Homo sapiens: one gene and its partners. The protein of the gene in region 1 purifies or fractionates together with the protein of each later gene. This does not show direct contact. Each region holds a gene or a part of one and is shown in the gene's direction. Other genes may lie near its edges. The genes, in order: PRKAR1A, ARFGEF1, PALM2AKAP2, GPR161, ANKRD26, VAPA and G6PD.

Region 1 (3,500 bases):
TTGAGAGTGTGATTTAGAATTCTCATCTACGTAACTAATGTTTGAATATTACCAAATTAAAAAGAGAATATTTCTTTTAATGAGCAAATATTTCTTTCTTTTAATAAGCGAATATTTTTCTTTTAATGAGCAAATACTTTGCATTAAGCCCAGCTTAGCATTATTCATTATGCCATTTTAGGCAGTGATATTTTAGAACAAAACCTTGGGAAACAAGATCTGGTATATATGTGCTGGTCATCTCATGTTTGGAAATCTATCCATTTGCTGGTAGGCACATCTTAATTTACCTAGTTATACCCATTACAGCATGATAGGTGCTGCTTTTAAGTGCTTAAAGTTATTTGGGGCCATTCAGAAATAATCAGCTTCCCTAACCTGTGAAAGTGGGTTATCAGTAATGTATATGTATGTCATGTCCCCTCTCGTTAAAGGAATAAACAAAATACTAAAACCATTGGAACTTTCTGGTGATAGTCAGATTTTTTGAGAACGTTGTGATAAATTTATAGGATAGCTTTGGATGTTTAAGTCTCAGCCAATGCATTGGTCATTTTTAATGGTTTTCTTAAATTTGTGCAGTGTCCATCTGACCATTTGAAAATGTACAGCCTGATGTACTTTGAAATTTTTCTGCATTTGGGATATATAGATAGATTAGATTAGATAGATAGTCTTGTCCTTCGCAGCAACATAGATAGAGCTGGAGGCCATTTTTCTAAGCAAAATAACACAGGAACAGAAAACCAAACCACATGTTCTCACTTACAGTTGGGAGCTAAGCAATGAGAACACGTGGATACTAGAAGGGGAACAACAAACACTGGGGCCTACTTGAGGGTGGAGGGTGGGAAGAGGGAGAGGATCAGGAAAAATACCTGTGGTGTACTTTACTTATTACCTGGGCAACAAAATTACCTGAACACCAAACCCCTGTGACACCCAGTTTACCTATATAACCTGCACATGTACCCCTGAACCTTAAACCCACACACACAAAAAAACGCTTATGGCAAAGATAAGTCTAAATTTTAGAAAGATTGGTTTTGAAGTGATGTGACAGTCTACTGGAGAAGAAACTGACCATACAGTTAGTTCTGCATTTCCTCTACAGGAATACTATTAGTAAAAGGAAACATAGAATGTTTACAGCTTTATCTCATTGTCAAAGAAGGAAGAGGTAGGACCTGGAACTATTGGTTTGAAATAAAATATTTTACTTTCTCATAGTGGGCCTGAAAGGAAATTAGGGCCTCACAATGCTTTGGCTTTGTGGACAGGAATTAGGAACTGTAGATATGGGGTGAAATATCTATATAGCTGGGTAGGGGAGGATATGGTCCTTTTTTTATAGAATAAAGACATGTCAATTGTATAGGTGAGAAGCCAGAACTAATGGAGGAATCTGCATTTAAATACCAGCGTTGAACAGGAAGAACACTAGGATTATTGGGTTGTAAATGACCTAGATTACTTTTGTGAGAAAATATTTTCAGAGATAAATTGGGTTGGCAGTGGCACAAAATCAGTTTGAGAGTAAACATGGAAATTGGACATTGGTTTAAAGTGTGTGGAAAAATATCTTGAGTGATAGGCTCAGGTATAAACCGGTATTTCGACTGTATTTGGAAGTTGGGAAATGCTTTGTGAAATATGTCAACATACTGGTTGCAAATGCTAGGAATTGGGCATAATATTGGCGGAAAATAAAAATCACAAGAATGTCATATCATTCATTACCTGTAAAATAAAAATGAATTAGTTAAAATTAAACTTTCCTCATTAAAAGCAACAAGCTTTGACTTTCTGGTTTTAAAATTTATTTGAAACTTAATATTTATTATTCCATAGCATTATGTGGTGATAATTACACGTCTTGGGGATATCACTTTTGTTATTTTTATTTTTAGGGAAGCACACTGAGAAAGCGGAAGATGTATGAGGAATTCCTTAGTAAAGTCTCTATTTTAGGTGAGTTGTAAAGTGTGTTAACTTTGCTAGTATGTGAGATACCCCTGAATTAGAATTGGATGGACTTGGGAAAAGCCTTCTGAAAGTATAATTGCTACTCATTCCCCCTGAAAAGACAGAAGGGCTGAAAGTCCTTCTGACTGTGGACATTCACAGTTATTTCCTCTGTGACTTCCCGTCTCTCTTGTTCCATCATTGAGTTGATTGGTTCAGAAAAGTGAGTACTTCCAACAATACATTTCCTCTGTGGAAAGATTAGGTATCATTTGCTGGCATCCTCTGAAAACATGCCAGAAGTTTGTTGAAATTTAGAGTAAAGCAGATTAATTGAAGATATTCTTTTGTGCATTTTGTTATGTGGACTTGGAGATGTTAGAACTTGTTCTTCATGAAAGGGGAATGGGGATTTTTATAAGGTAACAGGCTTCTGCCATTGTTTATTACAGTGAATTTTTCACCTCTTCTTTGTCTTTTCTTTGAATTGGTTACATATGCTTTGTGTTTTGGATAGTAGTTTGGCCTTTGGGAATAAAAGTTATTTTCTAGTTCTTTTTCATAAAGTAAACCAAGAATTTAAATAGATTAAATTATTTCTATGAAACTTTGGAACGATATGGATGGGGAAACTATGACTTTTGAGTATTGTAGTTGTAGGTTTGATTTGCATTGATGGCAATCTTCAGGAATACTTAAGGATTACATTTTCTTATTCCCTTGCCATTTGGTACAGTTGGTATAAATTAACCTAGCCACTGGGCTACCGAAGTAAGGATCTAAGGGCTATCTGCAGGCAGTATGAGAATCCTGCTCAGACTAGAGGTAATTGAAGACAGGTACCACTTTTAATCTGAGACACTACTAGAATGTTGAATGGGCATGGCTATTTGGTTGAATCTCTTTATACTTTCTTTTTACCTTTATAACAGCACCAAATAATACAGAGCAGTTATTTTGATTCTTGTCTTTCAGAGTCTCTGGACAAGTGGGAACGTCTTACGGTAGCTGATGCATTGGAACCAGTGCAGTTTGAAGATGGGCAGAAGATTGTGGTGCAGGGAGAACCAGGGGATGAGTTCTTCATTATTTTAGAGGTAAAGAACTCAGAATTTAATACTTGAATTTTAGAGGTAAAGAACTCAGAATTTAATACTTTAAAAAGTTGTACGCTCTAAGAGGGAAAGAGTGGGCTAATTCTGAACTATAGCTTTAGTTTTTAAGAATACCTGACCATTTTATTTTAAAATTATCTTTTACTTTGAAATGCTGTTGTTTGGTTTTCTGCCAGGTCACTATATTTTTAAATGAGTTTGAGTCAGAATTCTTGAAGGGCCCTAGACATGAAAAGCCAAATTCTAAAAACCATTTAACATAACAAACTGTGATGATTCTGCACTATTCTTGTTAAAATGCAAGTGTTTGGGCTATTTGGCAAATAAGGATTAAAGGTAATTATTTAAATTTGAAAAATTACTGTGTTTGTATATCTCCACATTCCATGGAAATGTATAGCAGATACTCTTGCTAAGCGG
Region 2 (3,500 bases), on another chromosome or scaffold:
CCTAAGGAAAGTGGTTTGGCCAATTCTTGGGTAAACTGAGACTATTTGCAAGGTTATATTAAGTCACTTTTAGTGTAAATGAACTTTCTAATCAAATATACTTTACTGGTAAAAATACGTCAAATTTTTCATTTTAAGAACTTGCTTAATGCTAGACAATAATCAGGAAAGAATCTGTAGTGTGCCAATTATTAGTTTTACAAATTAATATTTTTCTTATTCTTAGAATCTCATATCTATCCGGGGTTTGTAAATCTGATAAAATTACAGCAGTATATACTTACCCTAATAATAATATTGAATGTAAACTGGTTCACATGGAGTAGAGGTGGAGGGGAGGGAGAAACATCCAGACTACACTTGTTACTAAACTAAATGATGAAAAATACTCATTTGAATACCCAATTTTTTGTTCCCTTAAAACATAAAAATAGCTAGTACCCCATGCCACATACTTTTCAATTGGAATAAGAACAGTAACTTATAAATTTTTTAAATTGTGTTTTATTTTCCCTAGAATATTCACAGGATCTACAAGGCTAGATGGAAATGCCATTGGTAAGTATGGGCATTTATTCTACTTCGGAACTGGCTTGGGGCTAAAATAACTTTAATGTTGAGCTAAAAAAAAAATGTATTTATATTACAGTGGATTTTGTCCGTTGGCTCTGTGCTGTGTCTATGGATGAATTACTTTCCACGACACACCCAAGAATGTTTAGTCTACAAAAAATAGTAGAAATATCATATTACAACATGGGAAGAATAAGATTACAGTGGTCTCGAATTTGGGAAGTTATTGGAGATCATTTTAATAAGGTATTTGAATAACTATGGTGTTTGTTTACATTTGTAGTATATTTTTTGTTTAGAATGTCCTTGTAATCAAATTGAGCCTTTTTCCCTTCCAAGCAATTATTTATTACTTTTTAATATTAAATTAGAAAACCCTGTGAATGGTGTTTTTCTTTTTAGAAATGATTGCTCTGGGCTTTAAGAATTTGATTTAAAATATCTGTTTTTCTTGTTGAGAAATAGTTTTAGCATACTTAATGCCTTTATGGAAAATCTTAGGATTTACCTATCTATGCTATTCTATACTTTTTCTAAAACAAAAAATAAAGAATTGTAGATTTTTACTGCTGATATTAATTAGCATCGTTTATTTCTGTCGCCATTACAGGTTGGGTGTAATCCTAATGAAGATGTAGCTATTTTTGCAGTAGACTCCTTGAGGCAGTTGTCAATGAAGTTCTTAGAGAAAGGGGAGCTTGCTAACTTCAGATTCCAGAAGGATTTCTTAAGACCTTTTGAACATATAATGAAACGGAACAGGTACTATATTTGTTGAATTGCTTAATAGAAGGAAAATCTTGTTGTTTTCCACAGCAGGGAGAAAAACAGAAGAAAGGGGGAAAAACTGATGAGTTTTATCGGTTTGCATATCCAAGCAATTATATTAATATTTTTAGGTCTCCAACAATTCGAGATATGGTTGTACGGTGTATAGCACAGATGGTTAATTCTCAAGCTGCTAACATTCGATCTGGATGGAAGAACATTTTCTCTGTATTTCATCTAGCTGCATCTGATCAAGATGAAAGCATAGTGGAACTTGCATTCCAAACAACCGGGCACATTGTCAGTGAGTATTCTCTTAGCTGTGTTCAAGTAAAAGGAAAAAAAAAAAGCAACCTTAACGTGTTCAGAAGATGATTCAAGTAACAATAAGATTATGGCCTTTAAGTTTACCAAGCTTTGTCTACAGAACCAGAGTAAATAAAAACAATTAAATTACTATTATAGTTAACATTTATTGAGTATTTACCATATGGCAAATACTGTGTGCACTTTTCACGTAATTTCTTTAATCTTCACAGTTAAACATTATTGTCCATCCCTTTTTTCAAAATAGATTAGGAAACTCAGCCCCAGAAAGGTTAAGCAGTCTATGTAAGGTCACAGAACTAGTGATGGAGATGGTCTTGAGACCCATGGAGTATTAAAGCAAAGCCTTTATTTTTGACCAGTAAGTACATTGCACAGCCTTCTTCAAGGAGGAGTCCCCTTAAGTTCAAGGGGGACTGACTGAAATACTAAGATTATAAGTTAAGCCTATATGGAAGATGACAATGATGACCATCAACATCAAGAATCATGGCATCATCATAGCTATCATTTATTGCGTGCTTGCTTAAGTATTACACTAAGCACTTCACTTATATTATTTTACGTAGTGCTTACAGCTATCTGTGTATATTATTATTATTTCCATTTTATATCAAGAAACCGAGATACAGAGAGGTTAAGTAATTTTGTATATTCATTCAACCAAAGTTGAATCAGTACCTACCGTGTACCAGTCACTGTATTAGGTGCTATGTTTATAATGTAAACAAAACAGACAAGTTTTACTATTCTCACCACTCAGGGCAGTCAGTTAAGTGGTAAAGATAGTCTTGAACTTCGTATCTGTTGGATGTCAGAACCTGTAACAACCTTTAAGAGGAAGTGCATTACATCTAGATGTTGGTGTATTTTTGGTACAGCTAAGAATAATTGAAAAATTATAGTAATATATATTTTTCTCTATTTTAGCCCTTGTATTTGAAAAACACTTTCCAGCGACCATTGATTCTTTCCAGGATGCAGTGAAGTGTTTGTCTGAATTTGCGTGCAATGCAGCTTTCCCAGACACAAGTATGGAAGCAATTCGACTTATTCGCCATTGTGCAAAATATGTGTCTGATAGACCTCAGGTATAGCGTCATTTAGTAAACAAAATTTTGCAGAGTATTCTTTCCAATTTGAAATCTTAAGTTTGTTTGGGAATTGAGGGTATATGAAGCATTTATTTTTCAGTAATTTGAAAAATAATCTGAGCAGCCTGATTCCAAGTTAGGATGGTTAGTGATTATAACTAACCATTATTGAAAGTGTCAGGTATTTTTCTGAGTGTTTTTCATTAACTTGTATTAACTTGTTTAATCTTCTAATGGCTTTATGGGGTAGATAGTGTTATAGCCCCATACAGACAAAGAAACTGAGGCACAGAGAAATTTTAAAATGTGCCCATAGTTTCAGGGCTAGTAAAGTAGAACTAGGGTTTGAGCCCCAGCCTGTGTTTCTAACCATTCCCTACAGTGCATCTTGTCTGTCTGTGCTGTGTAATACTGAAGCTGACTGACTATGGATGAGAATAGGCTTAAGCTCTAAAGTAAAAGGTTGAATTGAAAATCTAGCTGCCATATTTAACTTGTATATTTGAATCTATCTTTGTAACTGTCATAAGAGAAAGTGATGTATCGTAGATTTGGTAATAAGATTTTATTCCGTACTACCATGGACCGATCAGGTGCTTGGTACTTTTTAGATACGTCAACTCATTTCACCTTCATACTTCACCAGTGTGGTTAATGTGGCTGTCTGGTATCATAACCATTTAAGTGATAAAAATGGAAACCTGAATTAACCTGGCTAATAATGCAGAAAGCTGGTGA
Region 3 (3,500 bases), on another chromosome or scaffold:
AAGCACCTGGCAGGTAGCTGTCATTGGATGGTGTTGAGCAGAGCCCTTAGCTTTTGTCTGTATTGCTGTCTTGTCCTGTGGGGGGTCAGAAGCAACATCTCTGAAGTGGAATGTGTATTAATGACTTTTTTTTTTTTTTAGACAGAGTCTCACTCTGTCACCCAGGCTGGAGTGCTGCCATGACAGCTCGCTGCATCCTGAAACCATCCTCCCACCTCAGCCTCCCCAGTAGCTGGGATTACAGGCATGTGCCACCATGCCCAGCTAATTTTTAAATTTTTTGTAGAGATGGGGTTTCGCCATGTTGCCCAGGCTGGTCTGGAACTCCTGACCTCATGTGATCCTCCCACCTCTGCCTCCCAAAGCACTGAGTTTAGAGACATGAGCCACTATACTTGGTCTGAACAGCTCTTTTTTAATCCCTTCCTTCAACTGACTGAAAGTCAGGGCCCTGCCCAGCATCACTTTCTCTAACTGCTTTAGACAGAGGCAGAGATATGACTTGAGGATTCATTCATCCATTTGTTCAGTAGGTATTTACAGATTGCCTCCTCTGGGAAGGTATTGGCAACACTGAAAAGTTGGTGTCCCCAGGTTTCAGCTGCCTGAGGCTGAAACCTTTATTTCACCTTTTGCACATAATTTCTTGAAGGACAGATGTCCTGATACCTAAGATGCTTGTCACATGAACATCTGTGGAATATCCGCCCCCACCAACAAAACTGAATTAAATACTTAGAAACTACAGTGCTTTAATGGAATCTTCCATTTGGATCCAGGAACTAATCAATGAGAAAAGATGACTCTTATCCTAATTTCTGCCAAAAGAAGAGCAAGTCCATCTTTGACAATGATCTCTACACTCACATGCTCCTTTCTTCTGTAGGGATACTCCCCAAACTTTACATTTAGAACATGGTAAAAAGCCTCTGAAACAGCATGAGTGAGAATGGTAATCCCAGGGACTAATAACAACAATTGCCATTTATTGAATATTGTTCATTCAGAAAGGCACGGTGTGAAATACTTTTTGTTTTTCACCTAACGTTATTTATAGTCTAATGGAAGAAATAGAAAAGCACATAAGCAGTTACTATCCAGGAGTACTATGAAAATGAGCATCCAGGAGGAACATGTAAACCAATCTCAGAGTTGTGAAACAATTCCCCAAAAAGAAGACATTAGAGTAAGTCCTGAAAATTGGGTAAAATAAAATATAAAATAACATCATAACCTTCCCAATTACCAGGAGGCATTTGTTTATTCGTTATTTGATTATTATTTATTCAGGACATTTAGTGTGAGAAAGGGAAAGGCAAAAGCATGAAGAAGTTAAGTCAGTAGCTAAAGACACAAACTCAGAGTGAACACTGAAATGCTTTTCAGCATGTATTATCTCATTGAATCCTAATAAGAAGCTTATGAGGTAGGCACTACAGTATTACTCATATTTTATAGGTGAGGAGGTTCTAGAACTGGTCTAACATTAAACTGATAGTATCAAAGCCAGGATTTGAATGCTGCCCGCAGCAGGCCATTGGAGCCTTTGCTTTGACTGCTGCCCTGAGCTGCCACCCAAGATGGCGGCAGCGTCTCGCACTTTTCCCATGAGCACACTGTGCAGGTGGTCTCAGCAGCCTGAGTGTGAGCCACAGACTGATTCCATTGCAATGGGAAAGCTTGAGACAAGCCAGGAGGCCTACCTCCTTTTGAGAGTCTTTCAAGCCTGGATTCAGTGCATAGAAATACCCAACATAAAATTTAATGGAACGAGTAACATTCCCATGGGGAAGAAGCTGTTGTGTCTCAGTGGAAACTAACCTTGTGGGAGGGTGCTGTTATGTCTGCACATTGGAGAGGAAGATAGTTTTCTTTGGGCATGAGTGAAAATAAGTAAATGTTATATAAATTGTCTTGGGTGAAACTCCTAAGAGCCACGTGGACAAGGCTCAGGCTACACCAGGGACCAGCATGAGTATGTTTATATATGTGCGGAAATAGGAAATGCTAATCTAACCTATGCTGTTCTTTAGGGAATTTTGTCATTTAATTAGAACCCACTCTGTGAAGTAATAAAAATGATCTTTGCATTTGTGCAGTACTTTATAATTTATGAAAACCTTGTATATGCTACCTTCTTCCTGAGGTGTGTAGAGCAAATCTTATACGCTTTACAGGTGAGTATTCAGAGCTATCCAAGCTTACACAGATAGAGGTGGAAGAGTTGTAGTAAATCCCAGCCTCTCCTGACTCCCAATTCTTGTATTAGTCCGTTTTCACCGTGCTGATAAAGACATACCCGAGACTGGGTAATTTATAAGGAAAAAGAGGTTTAATGGACTTATAGTTCCACGTGGCTGGGGAGGCCTCACAATCATGGCAGAAGGTGAAAGGCACATCTCACATGGCAACAGACTGGAAATGAGAGCTTGTGCAGGGAAACTCCCCTTTATAAAACCATCAGATCTCGTGAGACTGATTCACTATCACAAGAACAGCATGGGAAAGACATGTCCCCGTGATTCAATTACCTCCTACCATGTCCCTCCCACAACACGTGGGAATTCAAGATGAGATTTGGGTGGGGACACAGCAAAACCGTATCACTTGTGTTAGTGGTACATCCAGCCTTGGAAGGGTGCTTTGATACGGGCTGAAACTGCAACTAAGATCCTGCTGGACTAAAATCTTCTGGCTGGGAGGAGAGGAGTGAGCTTGGATGTGTCTCTATGGAATATGCCCTTGTTAGGATTTCACTTTCGGCCTCTTTCATTCTTGAAATTCTCACCAAGGGGTCAGCTAGTGAGTTTATGGCTTTCATCTGATTCTATTCTCAGTCCTGCATAGACCTGGGTATACGCTGTTGGCCTAGGCTGGCTGTGCCGTGGGCTTACAGAGAAGTGCTCATTGGCTTTTCGTTGGATTCGCCTCTCCATGCCTTTTCTTGCCTGGGAGCATTACAGCCTTGAGTACCAGGCTTGGAGTGTGGGGCCAGTGGCCAAGGAGGCCACCACCCTGCTTTTGGTCCAGGCCTTTTAGGCCGACCTGCACAGCATGGGCAAAAAGTCCTTGCAATGATTTACATACTATCCAGTCCAGCTTCCCAAGGATCCCTCAGAGGGGTTAGAGACTCAAACCCAAGCCCTGTAGAAACAGGCACTGTGATTCATGTGGGGACCATCCCCATCCATGTTCCTTGTGGACTTGTGTTATTGGTATGCAGCTGTCAGAGAACTGGAGAATTTAAGATCCTGGTCATTCATCTGTTATCTTATATCTCAGAGATGCAGATGACACCCTGCTTCTAAAATTCCATGTTAAGGCCTAAAAAATCATTTGCGTGGTATATTGGTGCTGAGGAAGGGTTCAACTTGGCTGAGTCTGTGAAGCTGCCCACTGGATAGGTGACACTTTGGGCCCATGCAGGGTCATTGCTGTGTCTGGGAGTGCCAAGGCAGGCCTTACCCAGCATGCATAAGGGTCACACACCTCCCTGCTAC
Region 4 (3,500 bases), on another chromosome or scaffold:
GGTGATCCCCAGCAGCTCTGGCAAGGGGGAAAGCTGCAGGTTCAAATCCAATGTGAAAGGGGAACTGTCCTTCTCCCAGCTGTTTCAGCAACACTGTTGTTACATCAAAGGAAGTTCGAAGATGCTGATTGGCGAGGCATAGGTCATGTGTCCACATCCATGAAGCCACATGGATGTGGTGTGTGAAAAGGGTGGGTCTCCAGAGGAGCAACTGCTGGACAAGGGTAAGAGATATCGAGGAGGCCGACAGTTAATTTCCTCTGTAGATGAGAAAGGAAGAAATAGTGCCCCAGAGGGCATCTTGGAAAACTGCAGCGCTTACAGGGTAGGATGATTAGCAGGTAAGCAAGACTGGTAAGGAACTAAAGGACGGAGAGACAGGAGAGAGGAGCTCAGGGAAGACAAGGGAAGAGGGAGTCTCAAAAAAATGAAAGGAGTCAGAAGTGTCAGATGCTGCAGAGAGCTCAATAAGGGCCCATTGGGTTTGGCTAGGATGTTAGGGTGACCTTGCCCAAAGCAAAGAGAGTCATTTATTTTGACTTTGGCTAGGACTACCCTCTAGAGGGTTCCTGTGCCTACCTGTCTTCTGCATTGCCCACCCCAGCCCTGGGTTGGCCAGGTAAGGGCAGAGGTATAGTGATGGCAGTCAGGAAATTTGTGCTTTGTCAGTAATTAGGTCTATGACTATGGGTAACTCATTTCAGCCCCTTGGGCTTTCATTTTGTCATCTGTAAAATGATAGACTAGAATGAATTACTCTGAAGGCCTCTTTTAGCTCCAAAATGTTGGCGTCTTTAAGGAGATTAGTGAATCTAAACATTTCTTAACACTTCTGTTACCATGACCCTGGTCCAAGCCTTTGTCTCTACTTGGGCCATAGCCGTGGCCTCCTAACTGGGGTCCCTGCCTCCACACTTGCCCCTTGCAGTCCCCCCTTCACCCAGCAGCAGGCACAGTGACCTCTTGAAAGTGTAAGTCAGTCATGTCTCTCCAGTGGCTTCCTCTCACATGTAGAATCCAGTCCACACTCTTTCTCCAGGCCTGCAATGCTTTTTGTAATCTGGCCCCCGACTGTCTCCAAAGTCTGCTGTTCTCTTCTTCACTCCTCTCCAGCTTTCTTGCTAATCCTTAAACACGCCGAGCTCATTTCAGCCTCAGGGCTTTGCAAGGGCTCTTCTCTGGCCTGCCTGAGGTTCCCTCGCATCATTTTCTGGTCTCTGCTCAAATGTCATGTCCTTGGAGAGCCTTCCCTGATGACCCACCCCTGACCCAGACACCCATTCCCTCTCTGCTTACCCTGTTTGATCTTTCTTTACAGTACCTACTACCCAGAATTGTTTCCTATTTTTTAAATTTATTTGTTTACTGTCTGTATCCCCACCTCCAAAATGTAAGCTTCAGGATAGGAGAGATTTGAACATGTCTTGTTCAGGGCTATGCCCCAGCTGTAGAGTTGAGCTGGGCACAGAGCAGCTCTTCAATAAATGTATTTTGTGTAGCTCAGTGAGGAATGGGAAAACAAGAATATAGGAGTGTCCAGAAACCAGTGGCAGTATGGCTATCATGGTGAGGGAGGGAGGGGACAGCCCTGTGCCTGAGGCATCCATCTCACATATGGCCATCAGAAAAAAATGTACTCCTTTCAGCTATTTAAAAATAATATAGTTTTAGGAATATGGGCTTAGTTTGCCTGGCTTGATGAGGATAATAAATAAAAAATAATTAAGGGTAAAAACTAATTCACGTAGTCATTATTTTTTATCTTGTGATAGAAGTAATCATCTCAGTCTTGTTCTCAGCACAGCTTCCATCTCTTGTCTTCTCAGAGCATGTGTATGTTATGGAAGGGCTTGTTTTATTTTTCTTGATCTGTTTATTAAGTACATACAGTAAAAAACAGAATGAGAAGAATGAACCCAAATTGTTTGTGTAGAGCAGGTTTTCTCAACCTCGGCACTACTGACGTTTTTGACCGGATAATTCTCTGTTGTTGGGGGCTATCTTGTGTATTGTAAAATGTTTAGCAACATCCCCAGCCTTAGGTGCCAATAGCATCCCCCAGGTGTGACAACCAAAAATGTCTCCAGGCATTTCCAGAGGTGCGGGATCTGGAGAATGGGGATTGAGAATCAGTGATGTAGGATAGTGAGGTAGGGAGTGGGTTTGATTATTATCCAGTGTCTACTGCTTGGATATTTTCAGACCCTCCCCAGCTAACCTCATTCTTTTCACTGATATCATTTCAGCTCTTCTGCTTAAAAAGAAAATATATGCAATTTCAGGGAAGGGGTTTTGAGCCAAAGGAAGCATGGAATATCAGCCCCACAGTTACAGGTGGAGGTAAATTAAAATTTCATATTTCTCAGTCAGCTGCTTACCTGGGTGCCCACAACCCTCAGCCTGAGCATCTGTGTGGTAGCTGCAGCAGCTCAGTTCTGGGAGGGGGCATCTTCCTATAGTGGGGCTTTAAATCTTCAGGCCCTGAGCCCCTTATGGAGTCAAAGACACTTCCACTTTGCATTCTCTTGCAATGCATCTTTTCTGTCTTCCATTTCATCTCTTCCGCATCAACAAGTAGTTGATATGCTCTGGCTGTGTTCCCAGCCAAATCTCATCTTGAATTGTAACTCCCACAATTCCCATGTGTCATGGGAGGAACCCAGTGGGAGGTGATTGAATTATGGGAGCGGGTGGGTCTTTCTTGTGCTGTTCTCATAGTGCATGAGTCTCATGAGATCTGATGGTTTTAAAAATGGGAATTTTTGCCTGCTGCCATCCATGTAAGATGTGACTTGCTCCTCCTTGCCTCCCAGCCATGTGGAACTGTAAGTCCATAAACCTTTTTCTTCCCAATCTTGGGTATGTTTTTATCAGCAGCATAAAAACAGACTAATACAGTAGTTGAATGAAACCTCTCTGTCTTTAACTAAATTTTTTTTTTTTTAATGAGATGGAGTCTCACTGCATCACCGAATCTGGAGTGCAGTGGCGCCATCTTGGCTCACTGCAATGCCCACCTCCTGGGTTCAAGTATTCTCCTGCCTCAGCCTCCAGAGTAGCTGGGATTACAGGTGCCCACCATCATGCCTGGCTAATTTTTGTATTTTTAATAGAGACAGGGTTTCACCATGTTGGTCAGGCTAGTCTTGATCTCCTGACCTTAGGCAATCCACCTGCCTCAGCCTCCCAAAGTGCTGGGATTACAGGTGTGAGCCACTGTGCCCGGCCAGCTTGAATTAAAATTTGAAAGGGAAAAAAAGAATTGAGTTTTCTTTTCATGTCTTAAGTAATTTTTGTAAACATTCCTTGAGTTTATCTTCTGACAACCTTTTTGCTCGTACTTTTACCCTCATTACCTCGTAGATTCCTCTTGGCAGTTGTATAAAGTAGAGTATATCTACTCTCTTTTTTGTCTTAGGAGAAATTGAGTCTCAGAGAGATTAAGAGACACACACACAGTCACAGGGAATTCAGACCTGGGTTTGGTAAAGATTCCAAGG
Region 5 (3,500 bases), on another chromosome or scaffold:
GCTGGTCTCGAACTCTTGGCTTCAAGTGATCCTCCTGCTTAGGTCTCCCAAAGTGCTGAGATTACAGGCATGAGCCACCAAACCTGGCTGATAAATATTTTAAACTTCAGCTTTTTTTTCACATATTTAAAATTACTCTCTGAATCACTAACTCAAAAGTAAAGGAAAAAAATACACAATAATTACCCAGGTTTTATATAAATTAAATTTTATTAAGGGATAATTTACAAATAATTAAACACAACCATTTTAACAGTTTGACCCAAGTATATACTTGCTTAACCACCCTCTCAACAGAGAACATTTCCAGAAAGTTCTCTCTTGCCCTTTTGCAGTTAATTCCCCCTACTTCATCCCAGGAAACCACTGGGACTTTAACACAACTTGTGTTGTTTTTGCCTTAAAAAAAAAAAAACAAAGCTGGGCACGGTGGCTCATGCCTGTAATCCCAGCACTTTGGGAAGCCGAGGTGGACGGATCACGAGGTCAGGAGTTCCAGACCAGCCTGGCCAACATAGTGAAAACCCATATCTACTAAAAAATTTAAAAAAATAATCAGCCAGGCGTGGTGGCACATGCCTGTAGTCCCAGTTACTCGGGAGACTGAGGCAGGAGAACTGCTTGAATCTGGGAGGCGGAGGTTGCAGTGAGGCAAGATGGTGAGAGCTAGACTCCGTCTCAAATACAAAACAAAACAAACAAATTAGGCTGGGCATGGTAGCTCACACCTGTAATCCTAGCACTTTGAGGGCTGAGGCGGGAGGACCACTTGAGCCCAGGAGTTCAAGACCAACCTAGGCAACAAAGTGAGACCCCATCTCTACAAAAATTTAAAAAAGTAATTAGCCAGGCATGGTGGTGCATGGCTGTAGTCCCAGGTACTTGGGAGGCTGAGGTGAGAGGATCATGTAAGCCCAGGAGTTTTCAAGGCTGCGGTGAGCTATGATTGTGCCACTGAACTGAAGCATGGGCGACAGACTGAGACCCTGTCTCTAAAATAAACAAAGCCAAAGGAATGTCTTTCCTCTCTTACCCACATGGGTATATGAGTGTGTGAGTGTGTGTGTGTCTGAGTGAGTGATAAAAATCTACTTAATAACATGAGTTTGTGTGTCTATGAGTGATTAAAACTCAATAATTTAACAAATTTGTTTTAGTTGGGATAAAGAGCGATTGAGAACTGCGTGGGACCCCTGTGCTTATGAGAGAGGATGGAGGGTGCAAACTGGTGGAAAGGATGTGAAAATTAACAGAGAAATTTCAACTGGGCCACTTGAAAATATGTAGCCGTTGTGAGAGTAGAAAGTCTTCACTCCTCATTCTCAGCTCTTTCCCTTCCCTCAGGCTAGTGAGAGATAGGAGTCTTGGAACACAATCTACAAGGCCAAGGTGGTAACAATCCATGATAACACAGATTTCTTCACATGGTATTTATGATAGTCTTACAAAGCTCTGCATGTTAGCTCTTAGAGACATGGAATGAGAATAGGAAGAAATCTTAGTGATAAGCCAGTGTAGTTTCCCATTTTACAGATGAAGAGACCTAGGGAAAGGTTAAACAGCAGGGCCCAAGCCATAGAGCTAGTCAGGCTCAGGATCACACTCCACATTCCTTTACTTGTAGTCCAGGTGATTCCATAACCTTATGCTCCAGCAGGTAGAATTACTGTAAGAGATCCAACACCTTGGGCTTTTTTCTCAGCATGTATTGATGCGCACAGCATTTATCCCTAAGAAGCTCTAAGTTCCTGTATCTTACATACAGATGATTGCTTTAATTTACTTTGCCAGGTGTATTCATAAAATGGAATATCACATCAAAATTTTTAAGCATATTCAAGTCTTCCCCATGAATATATTTTAACACAAAAATAATTTTTATAAGATTTTTCATTCGAAAATATCTCCACATTTGTAGTCATTTTCTTTCTTAGGTTTTCCTTATGTTACCAATTATAATTTTTTATTTTCTATATGACATTTCCCCCCATCGTTAGACATCTGGGTTGCCAGTCAGCCTTTATTGTTTTGATTACTTCATCAAGGATGAAAATGCTTCTCTAGTAGAAACTCACTTTCATTTCTTTGGAAGTATTTGGATTCCCTTTTCAATTAGAACCCTGGGATGTCCTCTTATCTCTTTGACCAATGCCTGCTGGCACAGAGATCTTTCTCTTTTTGGAGTTTGGGTTAAAAACAAAACAGCCCTTAGACACCGAGTAGGTGACCATGGTCTTACTCAGGTTATATATTTTTAAAACATATGCTTTTAATTTGTTTTAGGCACAAGCAGCATCTCAAGAAAACTTAGAGCAGTTTAGAGAGAATAATTTTGCTTCAATGAAAAGTCAGATGGAACTCAGAATTAAAGATCTGGAATCTGAACTCTCCAAAATAAAAACTTCTCAAGAAGACTTTAATAAAACCGAACTGGAAAAATATAAGCAACTCTATCTAGAAGAATTAAAAGTTAGAAAATCTTTGTCAAGTAAACTAACCAAGTAAGTCAAAATATAGAATCATAGGAAATAAATTAAGCTCATTAATTTGCCTTGAAAGCATAATTCTTAGGTTCATGAGATTAATGGGAAGTGAAAGCTAAATAGGTAATATAATTTTGGAAAATGTTAGTAAATTAACTTACCTTTAAAATGTGAGTCCAGGACAGTTTATGTCTTTCCTCTGTTTTTTTTTTTTTAATTTTATATGGCTTTTCCGTTAATATTCTTAGGTAGTTAACTGGATCTATGTCTTTCAGCTATGTGCTTTTAAAACTTTGTAATTTAGACATTGATATTGTCATCAGATTGCTTATCAGCATTGCCATAAATATAATTATTAATGAGTTGGGCTGTTTTTTGGAAAATTACAACTTAAACCAGAAGGGTCAAGTATCACTACTACTCTGCACATTCTGGCACTCCATAAATGAACTTTCCTTGATTGTGATATCTGGTATTATCACTACAGGGTGCCATGAGACAAACTACCCTGTATAGTTTTTCTACTACTTAAAGGCATGCTAGTGAAATAGGGAATGATTAACGTAGGGATGAAGGGAAGTATATTTTATAAAGTGGTTAAAAATAACACCTTGGTCAGCCTGAGGGAGTGTGTGGAAAACAGGTCAGGCCCCACCTCTGATGCCTTGGGGACAATGTTAGGAGCTAACTGCCTTTGAGACTCTTTAGTTCTTTTTGATCACCAACTCAGCTATCTTCTTTTCCCCTACAATTTTTTGCTCTGAATTATTCCTTGGGGCCAGATGCCTAATATTTTTCCAGATAATGGGTGAAATAAATGTAAAAGGGTGGTGAAAGCAAATGCTTGCACATGTCTTGAGGAATTTTTTAATCTCTAAACTGGTTTACTAAATACAAGTATTTTTAGCTGGGCTTTTTCCTTTGTTATTAGTTTTATTAATTGTATGTATCAAAACATGATGTTTTTGATATATTTGTACATGGTGAAATGGTTATTATAGTCAAGCAAATTAACAT
Region 6 (3,500 bases), on another chromosome or scaffold:
TCTAGTACAAGTGAATTTTTATTCTTAAACATAGGTGTGTTGGCTCTTTTTTTAAAAGATGCGCTCTACCTGAAAAGGAAATTGGATTTTAGAACTGGATGTGGTGCAGTGAAGTATTTTAGGCCCAGGTCTGTGTACACATTTTATAGAAGAATGAAGTACTCTGAAGTATTTTGGTTGCCTTTTCATTTCAACTGTGTTTTGAATTTGTCAGATCACACATATATTGTGTTATTGGGCGCTGTGGTATCTTTTATAAAACCTCTTGCTTGTGTGCAAAAGTTCCTAAAAGGAAACACAAGTAATGCCTATCCATTACTAGCATGCTATGCTGCATGCTTTACTGCCATTGCTGTATGCTTTACTGTCTTTGTAAAAATCCCCCTCTCCCCTTTTCTGGTAACTGGAAAAGCATGCTAAAAATAGTCTTATATTTTCACCCCATAAATGCAGAATCAGTAATTCCTTGGCTTAAAGCTCTTATATAATCAATATTATTGGTGGTAAATACCAAGTTTGGTATCTCATAGCTATCTTTTTTTAAAGAAATTAAGTTCTTGAAAATTTAGCCAAATCCCGTTTTATGGGAATGCTCTTTAGAATTCATTTTGTTCAGCCCCTTTGTTCTATGGTTGAGAAATCTGAGGCCTTACGAAGGTTAAGAGAACTTTCCCCGTGTCTCACAGGTAGGTAGAGGCAGAGCTGGAACTAGATATCTGGTCTGTTGACTCTAGCTCAGTGTCTTCTGGTAACTGTTGAAAATTGTCTTAGTTTGAGAGATGGCTGAAATAATGAACATAAAATGCTATTTATAATAACAAGTATATGTGAAATTTCTTATTGTAAGACTACTACCGGCTTACTGTTGAATAGTTTGGTTATAGTGTTTAGGCTAGAAATGCCTCCCACATTGGTAATAAACATTACAAAATACAATGTATTTTTAGGTAGGCATTTTATAAAATGCATTATGCCATGGTTGCTTTTGAGATAGATTGTAGTCTGGGTAGCATCTTTAAAATGTATGTGGGCTTAACTGTTGTTCATATCAGGAGATGCTCTGATTGTATAGGTGAGACTCTGTTTCTGTTATTTTTAATTGCTGTATGAAATGTGATCAGATTATTTTACTACCAACAGTTATAGTTTGAAAGTCCAACTGTATTAATTGACTGATAATATGATAATATAGAGATTAAATTGTTTGTCTTCATTCCTTATATGTTTAGAAGTTTTTGCTTTGTCTGCCTGCTTACTTGTATATGTAAGCATGAGGGAAATACACTGTTGCTAATACTGAAATTACAATCAAGTAACTAAGGCCTTGAGTTCATATGTGACACTGAATGCACTAGCTTCCTTCGTTCTATAACTAATGTACCTTAACTTCCCCCATTCTTATATTTACAAGAAGCTAAGTCATTATGTTCTGAGTGTGTGGTATGTTCCCTTAAAAAAAAATGACACTTGGAAGAAAAATGTATGAAATTCAGAAATTCCGATCAAAGAAAAGTAATTCTTTCTTTTTTTTTTTGAGACAGAGTCTTGCTTTGTTGCCCAGGCTGGAGGGCAGTGGTGTGATCTCACCTCACTGCAGCTTCCGCCTCCTGGGTTCAAGTGATTCTCATGGCTCAGCCGCCTGAGTAGCTGGGATTACAGGTGTGAGCCAACAAGCCCGGCTAATTTTTGTATTTTTAGTAGAGACAAGGTTTCACCATGTTGGTCAGGCTGGGCTCAAACTCCTGAATCCGCCTGCCTCGGCCTCCCAAAGTGCTGGGATTACAGGTGTGAGCTGCCGCACCCAGCCAAGAAAAATAATACTCTTAAATACTTAGATGTTCACCTAAAGTTGATATTATTTGGTATGGGAATTACTTTTGAACTGTAATCTTTCAGATTACACCACTTTGAAAACAAGTTTTAACAGTAGGGTAAAAATATAGTTTTTGAGGGTATTCCCAACTTGTGATCTTCTACCACTTTAGAGACATTCAAGTAATAGTTTTCTTAGAGCTTTGCACATTCCTATTCACTGAGATTTTAAAAATTTCACCTTTATTCGAGGGAAGGATCAATGCTTATTACCATTTGGAAAAACGAAGATCAGAAGGTAAATGATCTTTATTTTCTAGCTTTAAAGGGAAATTAAACCATTCATGAATAAACTTTAAAAATGTGAAGTGTCCTTTTCCTTTTCACAATACAAAAAAAATTTCAACAGATTGTGTGGTTTGTGCATTTATATCCTGTTAAGCATTAATAGCTAATCACTGGGACTTGAATTCTGATGGCAGATAGTCTCTTGCTTAGTGAGATGGAGTTAACTATTTTTTAGTAGGAAGTGAGAACAGCTGATTTTCATGCCACGTTTCATAGCCCCACTTTTGGTAGACTACCACCACGCTTCTTCGCGTAAGCAGTGGCATCTTGGGAATGAATGCCCAGCCGCTCGTGGGTTGGTGCAAAGAAGTATAAACATATATCACTAAGGAAAAAGAAAGTTTGTCTTGCCCTTCTGACACAGTGTGTGCACTTCAGGCAATTTTTGGAAAATATAAAAAATTCCAAATTCTGCCTTTCAGCAGCATCAATTGCTAGGAACATTTCATTCATTTCCCTGTAATATTAATGTTCTTTAAGCATAATCACTAATTATAAGTTGTATCCTATTTTTTTCCAGCTTAATTTCTGTGGTTTATTGAAAACCAAGTATAAATGTGACTAAAAGCATTTTGCTTTGTTTTTATAGTTAACTTTCTTAAGGTTATGGACATTTTATAATGTAACATTTGATTGGCCTGGCCTCTTGACAATTCCCTTCTAGTTATGCATATCCTCCTGTTGCCACATTTCTTGTTTTAAAACTCAGTTTCTTGTTTTCCAGTTGTTGCTATGTATAACACCCATCTTGAAAGAGAGTATATAGGAAGTTATTCAGATAACTTTTGTAGTAGTGATATTCAACTATAGCAGTACCTTAACTCATGATGAGCTTAGGAACATAAAAGATAATTGTTGCTTGAATAGCACCCCCAGAGATACTGACCTAATTGGTCTGGGGTGGAGATCTGGCATGGTAGTTTTTTTCAAGCTCCAATCATCGGCCAGACAGTTGCTTTATGTAGGTTTTTAAATGCCAAAGGCAGATATGAAGTAGATTTAATTAAGACTTGACTTCAGCAATACAGGGGAACTTAAAATACTTATTTTTCTTTAAACTGCAGGAGTCACTGTTAGGTATTGCTTAAAAAAAATTGCATAAAAGCTTTGCTTGTCAAGTTAGGATTGCTGGAATACCACTAAAGATTTTTGACTTGTGAATAAATGAGCTGTCATCGCAAAAAGGCGATTTGAGAAATGTGGGCTTCAGTATTAATTGCCATTTTGCTGACACCCAGTGTACCTACCTACCTGAGAAATTTATTTTGTCCATCATGTATTTCTCAAAGCAAAAGGTGGTTTTCAAGTATAATGTCGTTTTCAACATGCTTATTACTTAG
Region 7 (3,500 bases), on another chromosome or scaffold:
TGGCACCCATCTGTAATCCCAGCTACTTGGGAGGCTGAGGCAGGAAAATCGCTTGAACCCAGGAGGTGGAGGTTGCAGTGAGCTGAGATGGCACCATTGCACTCCATCCTGGGTGACGGAGTGAGTGAGACTCCATCTCAAAAAAATAAAAATAAAAAGAGCCATACCTGCATCAGCCACAAACCTTAACAGCCAGGACTCTGACCGTTAAACCCTTAGTCCAAGAAGCAGACTGGAGGAGAAGGTAACTGAGGTTGCTTTCTCCATCCCCACCCCATGCTGTCACAAGGCACTGCAACAGAGCAACCCAGGCCACAATGATAGCTTATGACTCCTGGCCTTCAGCTCTTATTAGACACCTCATTGAGAGCATCCAAGCTTGCTGTGTGAGTTGGAGCAAGTGTCTTCCTTTTCCTGAACCTCAGCATTTCGTGTAGCAAATGACAGCTTTTGAAACGAGGGCCCAGGGTCCTTAGGCTTTTCCAAGCTGATTTTGTCATTTCACTGCCTCCGCCTGTGGCCAGCTTCGGGTTGGGCAACTTTGTTTTGTTGAAATCAGTAGGGTTCCCCTTTGCTCTCCTCTGTTCTGAGAGTGACAACCTGAGGCTTTCAAAGCAGAAATAGGAAGTGCCAGCTCCAGCACTGTGGGTAGGGGACAAGGGGTCCTCTCTCTGAAGAGCCTCGTGGTTTGTTTTTTCCTCTTCCTGCTGTGGGGGAGATGGGAGGTGGCGTGCTCAGGCAGCACCTGGAACAGCTCCGGCTCCCAGGCTTCTTCCACGCCTGATGCCTCACTCGGTGCGGGAGGTAGGCAGGGTGGCACTTGAGGGCACGTGATCCTAGAATCTGCTGTTCCAGGAAAGCAGCCCATTCTCCGTTCATTGAGCAGACAGCGATTGGGTACTTCTGGGCCACAGCAGCCAGTCCCTGCCCTCCTCATGGGACCTATGTGCTATTGCGGCCAGGGAACCACGGCAAGTAAGCAGACCAGCAAGAGTTCAGGCTGACGTGTGTTTCAGAAGATACACATGGGCCCTGTGTCCCCAGTCCCCCAAAGCGCATAGATCCCACAAAGAGGGCCGGGAGAGCACAAACACAGAAGGAAGAGCAAATGCCCGGAGCCCCGAGTTGGGAACAAGCTCAGCATGACCTAGAAACTGAAAGCAGGCAAGTGGCTGGCAGACCCACAGCCTGGGCAAGCAGGACACCCTGGGGCAGGCTGGACCCACGTGGCCTTCCTCTGTCCCTTCCTCCTCCCTGGCCAGCTTACCTCACACTTGCCCACACACCCAGCTTCCTTCCTGGGGGCCCTGATGGCACCTCAGAGTTACCAAGTGGGCCACTTCCTGCCTTCTCAGGACTCCCACCCCTACCAGAAAGGGAGCCGAGGTACTTACTGCCCCCTTCCAGAAAGCTCTGGCCTTGTAGACTAGTGTGCGCCTGGAACAGCATCTTTCCCCACCTGATGGGACCTCGATGATGCTGGAGAGCTTCACAGGGAGTGAGGGGAAGAGACTGGGATTGATAGTCTGCGGGGTCCTCACTTCTCTGGGCCTTAGTTTCCCCACCTGGATCACAAGGGCCATGGGCTTGATGGGCGTTCAGGACGCATCCCAATGATGGGCCTGTGGGAGGGATGACCCAGCGGCCCCCGCCTCCCCTTTCCTCAGAACATTTCTGGGCTGACTTCCCCATTGGTCTGATAAGATTCTTGCTGTGTCATGATGATGTTGGCACTCCCCCAAAGCCCCGGTGACTCATGAGCCCCCGGGTATAGCAGGGAGGCCCTTTTGTTGGTTTTTCAGCTGAACTAACTCAGCAGCCCCCAGGTTCTCTGGCCCCAGTGGCCAGGAACCAGCTGGGCCCCTGCCAAGGCCCAGGGCTCCACCCAGGGAGTCTGGGCAGGTCCTTAACCCCAGTGACCCTTGGGGATGGGATGGCCCACCCCCGCTGGCCCTCCAGCAGGCATCGTGCTCTACCATGAAACCCTCATGCCAAGACAAGGGCTGCAGCGATTTCGGTTTATAAAACAGACAGGTCATGGCCCAGGTCCCTTTGCCCTGGCCTAGCCAGATGTTGGTGGCTAGAGATCTTCATCATGCCCTGCTTCTACTAAGTCACCTTGTGTCCTTGGGCAGATCCCTCCCCTGCTGTGGTCCTCAGGAAAGAGGAGGGCGTGGGGAAGATGAGAAGCTCCCAACTGCTTTTCACTAAGGACCCCTTGAATTGCCCCCACCCACATGGCACGAGTAGACTCTTGACCAAGCTGTCAGGTTTCCCGATGTCTTCCCATGTTTGTTCCTCCAGAAAGTCCCACTAGAGCATCGCAGCCAGCTGGGAGGGCAGGGCTACCCCTGAGTCCTGAGGAGAGCAGCTCAGTCCGGCTCAGCTCAGCTTAGCTCCCTGTCACCATGGGAGAGAGCGGCCTGCCTTACCCCACCCCTACTGTCCGTCTTACCTCACCTCGCCTCTCAGGTGACTTGGAGCCCAGCAGACGGTCGGTCGGTTGCAGGGCCTGAGCTGAAACAAGGTGAGCCGGTTCAATCTCTAGTTAATCCCAAAGGGAGCAGCAGGAACAAACGGCCTGGAGCGTGGGGTTGCTGTGACTCAGCAGACCAGTCCCCTGCCACCAGTACCTTTCTGGAGTCTGTCCCGATGCCTCCCAGTCTTCCGGAATTTGGTCATGAGCAAACATGACCTGCTTTGAGTGAGGCTTAGAGGTATTTGCAGGCTGTGGTTCTTTCCGTTTATTTCAGGGTCCAGTTAGTTCCCAGTAAGCTGACCCTTTCTGTGTGGGGCCAGCCGTGAGTTGATGTGACATGGGCAACGTTCCCCTCCCCAGCCCCACTGATGGCAGGTGCTGTGAGGAGCTGAGTAGAGGAGCTCCTACCCCAGGGCGAGGGGTTGTCTGCTGGACTTTGAAGGGTGCAGCAGTGAGAGGTCCGTGTCGCTGTAGTCCTGGCACCGAGCTCACCTGAGGAGCATCAGAAGTGGAGCAGGGCCCCTGAAGAGCGCAAGCACACAAGGCACCCACACCATAGCAGTTGCCCTCCTGGAAGCCCTGTGGTGGCTTCCTAACTGCCTGGCTCTGGGTGAGGGCGTTTGACCTGGTGGCATGGCCCCCATTCTGTAATGGTTTGTAGAAATGGACCCATCCATGGTTGCAGTGCCTGATTGCTTCGAAGAGCATGTGTTTTTTTTTTTTTTTTTTCGTGACATGGAGTCTTGCTGTCACCCAGGCTGGAGTTTGGTGGCGCAATCTTGGCTCACTGCAACCTCCGTCTCCTGGATTCAAGTGATTCTCCTGCCTTAGCCTCCTGAGTAGCTGGGATTCCAGGTGCCTGCCACCACATCCAGCTAATTTTTGTTTTTTCTTTTTTTTGAGATGGAGTCTTGCTCTTTCACCAGGCTGGAGTACAGTGGCGCAATCTTGGCTCACTGCAATCTCCACCTGCGAGGTTCAAGCAATTCCCCTGCCTCAGCCTCCCGAGTAGCTGGGACTA

What was found.
Region 2: the proteins of PRKAR1A (region 1) and ARFGEF1 purify together in Homo sapiens (affinity purification with western blotting; 2 studies listed by BioGRID and IntAct, with this or other methods). This does not show direct contact.
Region 3: the proteins of PRKAR1A (region 1) and PALM2AKAP2 purify together in Homo sapiens (affinity purification with mass spectrometry; 3 studies listed by BioGRID and IntAct, with this or other methods). This does not show direct contact.
Region 4: the proteins of PRKAR1A (region 1) and GPR161 purify together in Homo sapiens (affinity purification with mass spectrometry; 3 studies listed by BioGRID and IntAct, with this or other methods). This does not show direct contact.
Region 5: the proteins of PRKAR1A (region 1) and ANKRD26 purify together in Homo sapiens (affinity purification with mass spectrometry; 3 studies listed by BioGRID and IntAct, with this or other methods). This does not show direct contact.
Region 6: the proteins of PRKAR1A (region 1) and VAPA purify together in Homo sapiens (affinity purification with mass spectrometry; 3 studies listed by BioGRID and IntAct, with this or other methods). This does not show direct contact.
Region 7: the proteins of PRKAR1A (region 1) and G6PD purify together in Homo sapiens (affinity purification with mass spectrometry; one large-scale study listed by BioGRID and IntAct). This does not show direct contact.

Annotation. Positions count from the first base shown.
Region 1 is NC_000017.11:68,525,930-68,529,429, forward strand, and holds part of PRKAR1A (cAMP-dependent protein kinase type I-alpha regulatory subunit), read left to right. Parts: intron 1-1,910; coding exon 1,911-1,971; intron 1,972-2,940; coding exon 2,941-3,062; intron 3,063-3,500. UniProt on the Homo sapiens protein: Regulatory subunit of the cAMP-dependent protein kinases involved in cAMP signaling in cells.
Region 2 is NC_000008.11:67,225,282-67,228,781, reverse strand, and holds part of ARFGEF1 (brefeldin A-inhibited guanine nucleotide-exchange protein 1), read left to right. Parts: intron 1-517; coding exon 518-558; intron 559-649; coding exon 650-819; intron 820-1,183; coding exon 1,184-1,335; intron 1,336-1,472; coding exon 1,473-1,645; intron 1,646-2,598; coding exon 2,599-2,759; intron 2,760-3,500. UniProt on the Homo sapiens protein: Promotes guanine-nucleotide exchange on ARF1 and ARF3. Promotes the activation of ARF1/ARF3 through replacement of GDP with GTP. Involved in vesicular trafficking.
Region 3 is NC_000009.12:109,783,198-109,786,697, forward strand, and holds part of PALM2AKAP2 (PALM2-AKAP2 protein isoform 3 (PALM2-AKAP2)), read left to right. Parts: intron 1-3,500. UniProt on the Homo sapiens protein: Binds to regulatory subunit (RII) of protein kinase A. May be involved in establishing polarity in signaling systems or in integrating PKA-RII isoforms with downstream effectors to capture, amplify and focus diffuse, trans-cellular signals carried by cAMP.
Region 4 is NC_000001.11:168,126,931-168,130,430, reverse strand, and holds part of GPR161 (G-protein coupled receptor 161), read left to right. Parts: intron 1-3,500. UniProt on the Homo sapiens protein: Key negative regulator of Shh signaling, which promotes the processing of GLI3 into GLI3R during neural tube development.
Region 5 is NC_000010.11:27,013,495-27,016,994, reverse strand, and holds part of ANKRD26 (ankyrin repeat domain-containing protein 26), read left to right. Parts: intron 1-2,283; coding exon 2,284-2,501; intron 2,502-3,500. UniProt on the Homo sapiens protein: Acts as a regulator of adipogenesis. Involved in the regulation of the feeding behavior.
Region 6 is NC_000018.10:9,955,516-9,959,015, forward strand, and holds part of VAPA (vesicle-associated membrane protein-associated protein A), read left to right. Parts: 3' UTR 1-3,500. UniProt on the Homo sapiens protein: Endoplasmic reticulum (ER)-anchored protein that mediates the formation of contact sites between the ER and endosomes via interaction with FFAT motif-containing proteins such as STARD3 or WDR44.
Region 7 is NC_000023.11:154,540,347-154,543,846, reverse strand, and holds part of G6PD (glucose-6-phosphate 1-dehydrogenase), read left to right. Parts: intron 1-1,394; coding exon of another isoform or gene 1,395-1,583; exon of another isoform or gene 1,584-1,635; intron 1,636-2,455; exon of another isoform or gene 2,456-2,609; intron 2,610-3,500. Other genes in the region: IKBKG (NF-kappa-B essential modulator), read right to left, coding at 1,395-1,583. UniProt on the Homo sapiens protein: Catalyzes the rate-limiting step of the oxidative pentose-phosphate pathway, which represents a route for the dissimilation of carbohydrates besides glycolysis.